Homo sapiens: one gene and its partner. The protein of the gene in region 1 purifies or fractionates together with the protein of each later gene. This does not show direct contact. Each region holds a gene or a part of one and is shown on either strand. Other genes may lie near its edges.

Evidence for each region. Proteins that work in one complex are often made in the same cells at the same time.
Region 2: the proteins of C1orf21 (region 1) and PPP2R1B purify together in Homo sapiens (affinity purification with mass spectrometry; one large-scale study listed by BioGRID and IntAct). This does not show direct contact.

What each region holds. Positions count from the first base shown.
Region 1 is NC_000001.11:184,624,529-184,628,028, reverse strand, and holds part of C1orf21 (uncharacterized protein C1orf21), read right to left. Parts: 3' UTR 1-3,500.
Region 2 is NC_000011.10:111,759,890-111,763,389, reverse strand, and holds part of PPP2R1B (serine/threonine-protein phosphatase 2A 65 kDa regulatory subunit A beta isoform), read left to right. Parts: intron 1-2,338; coding exon 2,339-2,571; intron 2,572-3,438; coding exon 3,439-3,500. UniProt on the Homo sapiens protein: The PR65 subunit of protein phosphatase 2A serves as a scaffolding molecule to coordinate the assembly of the catalytic subunit and a variable regulatory B subunit.

The sequences.
Region 1 (3,500 bases):
CTTGAATATAAGGCCATGTTCCTAAATAAAATGCAAATACCCTTGGGAAGGGCAAATATGTAGCCATTAACAACTGGCATGGAGGCATTTTGATCCCTTCCTGGCAATGAGGTGGAGGTGAGTGGGAAGTGGGCCAGGGCAGAAAATGGGGAGAGGTAAACTTGGCTTATATTCCATGAACAAGCCTAAGGCAAACTTGGCTTATATTCCATGAACACATGGCCCTAAGGGGACCTGCCAGGGGCTCTAGTTTTTAAATGGGTGAATATGAGGCCAAATGTTTGTTGGTTTCCAGCATCAGGATTACCGCTGGACAAATTCTAATCTAAACACCTGGGCCTGCGGAATATCCGAGTGGGCATCGCTAGCCTCAGAATTACAAATTCCTCAGTGAAGAGCAAGAGGAAGATCTGGAAAAAGTGGGTGTTTGAGCTAACATCTTTCCAAGGGTCCAGAAAGCTGGCGTTGCTGTTGAGTATGCCAGGAGGGCAGGGGTGGGTGTTTTGCAAAAAAGGTCAGCCCCAAGGTGCAGCAAGGCCCAGTGCCCCTTAGCTAGGAAAATTGCCTTCAGCACCAACGCCTCCAGCCTCTCAGGGGAACTGTCTTCTGTTTGAGCTTTTTCTTGAGTTTCTGGAAACAGTGTTGGCTTATAGCTGGTATTCTGATGCATCTAATTCTTTTCCTTTCTCCTAAACATTTTTCTAATTATTTTTCTGGGGGTGGGGAGGGGAGAAAAAAACCCAATGCTCTGAACTCCGAGGTTATTTGGAAAACCTAAAAGGCACTGCAAGTTGTCTCCATAGAGAGATTCTGCTTGTCTCTGAGCCTTCCCTGACTCATACCTGCAGAGCTCCCAGCTCTGGCAGCCTCCAGGTACCCACGAGGTCTTCCCTCCACAGCTGTCTAGGCCTATGGGTATTTTCCACTTGCATACAATTTGTCTGTGCTTTTTAAAAATCTCCTTTCTTTGGCAGGACTCGGGTGTGTATTTGGGACCCAGCAGAGGCTTGGCCACCAGGTGTATGTGACCTAATCCAGGGGAAGGCTGTCCAAGAGAGCTGCCTTTAGTTAGGATCACACACTAGACAGGGAAGCCCTCTGCTGCTTCCCGTATATTTATTTTAGGGTGCATTCTCATCCCTGGGTCTAGGCCAGCCTGGTCCCAAACGGTATTTTTCGCCTTAGTGGCTCTAAAGAAGGTCATGCTGACCCAGAGCTGTCCCCTTTGTCTCCAAACCAGATCCGGCCCAGGTTAAAGTCCTTGAATTCAAATAGCTTTTGGCAGAGGAAGAGGAGTTGGGGCTGGGTAAGGGACAGAGGACACCCTGGGATGAATCATCTCAGCAAGCACCCCTGCACTGCCGCAGTGAGCAGGGAAACCCCGGCCCTGATTGTGACCACACCTTACCTGTCTGGAGGACCTCAGCAGTGGGCTGCAGAGGACACAGCACCACCTAAAGCTCTTATTTATGCTCCCTGAATCCCCAGCAAAGCCCCGGGAACCCTCTGTGGCTAGCCTGGCTCACTGCCCCGTCCACGTCCCTTGCTCTTCTCTCTCCCTCTACAAGTCCAAGCTCCAGCCTCTGTACTGCAGGCTGGCCCTGGACAGTCCACACTGGCCCTCCTTTGGGCTGAGTCCTGTGCTATCCTCTCAGCCTGAAAGTCCTTTAGTAACACTCTCCCTCAGTCCTCTGACACATCCGGGCTTTGATGTCACCTCTTTCAGGAAGCCCCTGATTGCCAAAACTGGGCTGGCTGCCACGGTGAGATGCTCCCACAGCACTCAGGACTTTCCCCTGTAGGGTACTTCCATGCTGCCTCCCTCGTTATGGCTAGGTTCCTTGAAGGTGGATTTAGTTCAGTTGTGCTTTGCTGGCAATTAGCGCAGTGCCTGGAGTGTACCAGGGGCTCCAGAAATAAATGAGTTCAATGAATGAATCATCAAGACTGGAAAGGCAATGCTAAAAATGCTATACCTGGGTCAACCTAGATGAAGGGACCCCAACTCCACACACTGGGGTTAGAGCATCCCAGTGGAGCTGCTGAAATGCCAGTCAAGTCCACATGGATGAGGGGGACAGTGTGTGACACATGTGGTGGCTGTATGTGGCTGGACCAGGCACACGCCGTTAGGGATGTGTCTATTATGTGTGTAAGGCCAGGAAAGGATGTCAGCCACAACACCCCGGCTAGCAGCCCAGACGAGTCAAGCAGATGTAGTAGGGCATCCAGGCACAGATGGGGCACAAAGCAAGACGAGTAGCAGACCTCGATTCTCCCATGTGAGTCGAACTCAAACTTTCTCAAGAGTGATGGCTGGTTTTTCCTGTTTCGGTATCCCTATAGTTATACTATTACTTTCCTAGACACTATCTTGGAGATTACAGAAAGGCAAAATACAGCTCTTTCTTGAAGTATTGCAATGATAGAGTAAATTTCCTTTCTCCACGTATCTCTCTGTATATGTATGTATGCGCGTGTATGTGTATGTGTGTTAAGAAAATAGATCCGAATCTAAAGTTCTAATAAGGCAGCTGCCTGGATCTATTCCAGGAAAAGAGTAATTTTATGAATTTGCATCTTGGTTTGAATGGAAAAACTGGCTTGAAATCTATTGCAAAACTTTCTTTGCTTGCTTGCCTGTCAAGAGAGAACAGTCCTTGAAGGTCTAGACTGAAATGCCAGGACACAGGGGCTATTCTCTCCCTTTAGAGTCAATGCCAAGAGGTCCCCCTAAGGCTGTAGAATTATTTTCAACTCTAGAGACCCTAAGGGACCTCTGCCTAAGTTTATGGTGTTCTTTATACTGCCTCTAAGTCTTACTCAATCAAATTCAAAGCCTTGGGCTAAAAATGGAAGCAAAGAAGGGCGAAATCAGGGTAGAGAGGGCAGACACTATCAGAATGAAGCCTTCAGTTTAGAGGTGAATCTTCCCGAAATACAGCAATTTCTGTGGTTCCCAAGTTGTAAGGGCCATTTCCCACATCATCTTGAAGGGACATGACAGCTGCCAGGTTAGAAAGAAGCAGGATCTTGGGGGCCAGATTTCAAAGGAAAACTGGATATGACAGCCCCTTTACACAAGGACATTGTTTTGGTTCCTTCGAGCAAAGTAAGTAAAGGTGGGAGCGGGTCCCGTCTAGGCAGCACCTTTAACAGTTGCTATGGAGACATGAGTCATCTTTAGAGGATGTGATTCAAGAAGCAAGAAGAGGAACTCTGAGGAGTTCTTGGGCTCTTCCGACCTTGGAACAAGTTATTTAAATGTCTATCCAAGTCATTACATGACTATCTAAAACATGTAAGGTCTCGAAAGAGATTTGCATCTAGTTTCAGTGCTTAAATGGACCTGGAAGATGCAGATCCCCAGTCCAAAGATGAAAAAGAGACATCAAACCCTAGCCCACAAGAAAGGATTTCAATGCAAGTCAGTGGTCCAGGCATTGCCTTTCCTCCATGCTTGGAGATCGGATTGTCCCAGACCCCCATGAAGGTCAAGA
Region 2 (3,500 bases), on another chromosome or scaffold:
AAGGCTTTTTATGACCCGCCTCTGTAGGATTATCATATGCCCAGTGGTACTGCATGAGAAGAGGTGACAGTAGGCAGGGAACAGACTGCAAAAGGCCTTGATAACCTCTTCCATTCACATTGGTCATCTTTCTGTTTTTTGAACTAACCAAGCTCATTATTCCCTTAGGACCTTTGCCCTAGGTCTTCCCTCTAATGAAAAGCTCTTTCAAGCTTTCTGTGGCTGGCTCCTTGTCATTCAGGGATCAACTTCAATGCATCTCCTCAGGGAGGTTTTCCCCAACCACTCAACTTAAAATAGCCTCACAGTCATCCCTTACTACATCATCCTACTCCTTTTTTCTATAGAGTACTCATCACCATCTACTTATTTTCTTGATTGATTGTTGTCTTACTCCATTAGAATGTAAATGCCACTAGAGTGAGGAACCTTGTCTGCCTTGTTTCTTCTGTGTCCTCAATGCTAGAATATACCAATAATAATGTATTGAAAAAATGAGTTTCAGAGGCTTGGAAGCATGAAACAGGCTGGGTTCAAAACTGCCGGAGTGTGGCTGGGTGTGGTGGCTCACACCTGTAATCCTTGCCTTGGGAGGCCAAAGCAGCAGGAGGATTGCTTGAGGCCAGGAGTTCAAGATCAGCCTGGGCAACATAGTGAGACCCCAACACTTAAAAAAAAATAGCTGGGCATGATGTCATGTGTCTGAGTCCTAGCTATTCGGGACGCTGAGGCAGAAGGACGAGGAGTCTGAGGCCGCACTGAGCCATGATTGTGCCACTGCACTTCAGCCTGGGCAACAGAGCAAGACCCTGTCTCTTAAAAAAAAAAAAAAAAAAGAACTGCTGGAGTGTGAAGTGTTGAGGCTGGGTAGGCAGAGTGGTCATCAAGGGCCAGGCAGAGTTCAAATCAAGAGACCACTCATAAGCAATTCTCAGGAGCATGGCCTCATCCTGTAGTAATGATAGCTATTATCCAGTGGTACTGCACGAGAGGGGGTTACAGTAGGCAGGGGACAGATCATGAAATGCATTGGCAAGTGAGAAACAGTATCTTTTCAATGAGTTTCTGAAATACCTTCTAGGAAAGCTGAATACTGTCTACCTGTGTGTATCAAACAATTTTTAAAATATATTATTAGACACACTTCTTTTCTTTAACTCATTATGCTTCTGTTTCACTCTTGGTTAGTTCTATATGTGGGTTTTATGCTTTAAAATCTGTAGCTCATGGCATGTGTAGAATCTACCTGGACTACATGCAAACTCAGTAAGGCAGAGGTTCAGAGAGCCAGCCTGTTTACACTTTTTACTAGGCCATGCCATATTCAGTTACTGCTCTTAATCCAGACCATCCACCCCATTTGGCTTCTTTTATTTCTAAAGCTGTAAGCAAGGTGTCCTACCATCTCTGTACTTTACCTTTTTTTTTTGAGACAAGAGCCTCACTCTGTCACCCAGGCTCAAGTACAGTGGCACAATCTCGGCTCACTGCAACCTCTGCCTCCCGGGTTCAAGTGATTCTCATGCCTCAGCCTCCTGAGTAAGCTGGGTTTACAGGCGTGTGCCACCATGTCTGGCTAATTTTTGTATTTTTTGTAGAGACAGGGTTCCACCATGTTGGCCAGGCTGGTCTCGAGCTCCTGACCTCAAGTGATCTGCCCACCTCGGCCTCCCGACGGCTGGGATTACAGGTGTGAGCCACCGTGCCTGGCCAGTCTCTGTAGTTTTCACTTGATTGTTCTGTCAGAAACTCCTTTCTGCCCTATGGCTAATGGAAAGTTGCTGAATGTGTTCTGAAAAAAGCAATTTTGCATTCAGCATTTTATAGGTTGGATAAAAGGATGGGATGGAGATGGTGGATAAGGGTTGCTTGCACCTCTGGGAATGGTGGAAAGATACTGAAAAGGCTGTGGACTCAGTGACCTGACAAGCTGTTATCCTGTATTTGTGGTGCCTAACATTGGTCATAGTTTTGTACTTACTCTTGAGGAAATATACATGATCCTGTCTGAATTTGGCTATGTATCTTTTAAACCTAGTGATTCAACTCACAGTAATATTAATATTGTGTCAAGTCTTTTACACTGTGTCATTTGTAGACACCATCTGGGAATTGCCATCTGGGACACGAGATCTTGGCTTTTCTACAGAAGTCGTGTCTTTGGGTTGGCCGCACCATATGTTATCACTGTGTGAGCTGAAAGTAACCATTTGGTATGATGCAGCTAACATTCTGGTTACGTGTACCACCTCCCTTCAGTCACTTTAAAAGGTGATTATCTGTTTCTAACCTGATTCAATAAGTTTTCTTCTCTGGTTTTCCTTTTTAATCCATTCAGCCTCCTTTGGAAAATCTGGCAACTGTGGAAGAGACTGTTGTTCGTGACAAGGCTGTGGAGTCCCTGAGACAGATCTCCCAGGAGCATACTCCTGTTGCTCTGGAAGCTTATTTTGTACCTCTGGTGAAACGCTTAGCAAGTGGGGATTGGTTCACCTCTCGCACATCTGCATGTGGTTTGTTCAGCGTTTGCTATCCCAGGGCATCAAATGCTGTTAAAGCAGAAATCAGACAGTAAGCCATGGTATTTTTTTGCCTTGTTAAAGCAGAAATCAGGTAGTAAGCTATGAGTTATTTGGGATTACTGGGGACTTGTAGCTGACAATTTACATAGTACCTTGTTACCAATGAGTGGCTGATACTAGGATAGTAGGATTTATGACATCTTTCTTTTTTTTTTTTAAGAGATAAGGTCTTGCTCTGTTGTCTAGGCTGGAGTGCGGTGGCACAATCATAGCTCACTGCAACCTTGAACTCTTGTGCTTAAGTGATCCTCCAGCCTCAGCCTCCAAGTAGCTAGGACTACCGACATACACTACTGCGCCTGGCTAATTTTTAAAAAAAATTTCTGGCTGGATGCAGTGGCTCATGCTTGTAATCCCAGCACTTTGAGAGGCTGAGGTGGGAGGATTGCTTGAACTCAGGAGTTCAAGACCAGCTTGAGCAACATAGTGAGACCTTGTCTCTACTAAAAAGAAAAAAATTAGCTGGGCATGGTGGGACCCGCCTGTATTTCTAGCTACTCAGAAGGCTGAGGTGGGAGTTCACTTGAGCCCCCGACAAACAACAACAAAAATATTTTTGGCATATAGATAGGGTCTTGCTATGTTGCCCAGTCTGCTTTCAATTCCTGGCCTCAAGCAGTCCTCCTACCTGGGCCTCCCAAAGTGCTTTGATTACAGGTGTGAGGCACCATGCCTGGCCTATGATGTCATTTTTTATTATCCAGTTGAATATGTTTTATTTTTGTTACTTCTATAAGTAGAAGCTTAGTCACTGATTATTGTAAGATAAAACCTCTAAAAGTCTGTCTGTGTGTATGGGGGGCAGGTTTATTCAGTGTTATTTGATGGGAAATACCTTCATTGTTTTATGTTGCAGGCAATTCCGTTCCTTGTGCTCAGATGACACACCAATGGTACGACGTGCTGCTGCTTCCAAAT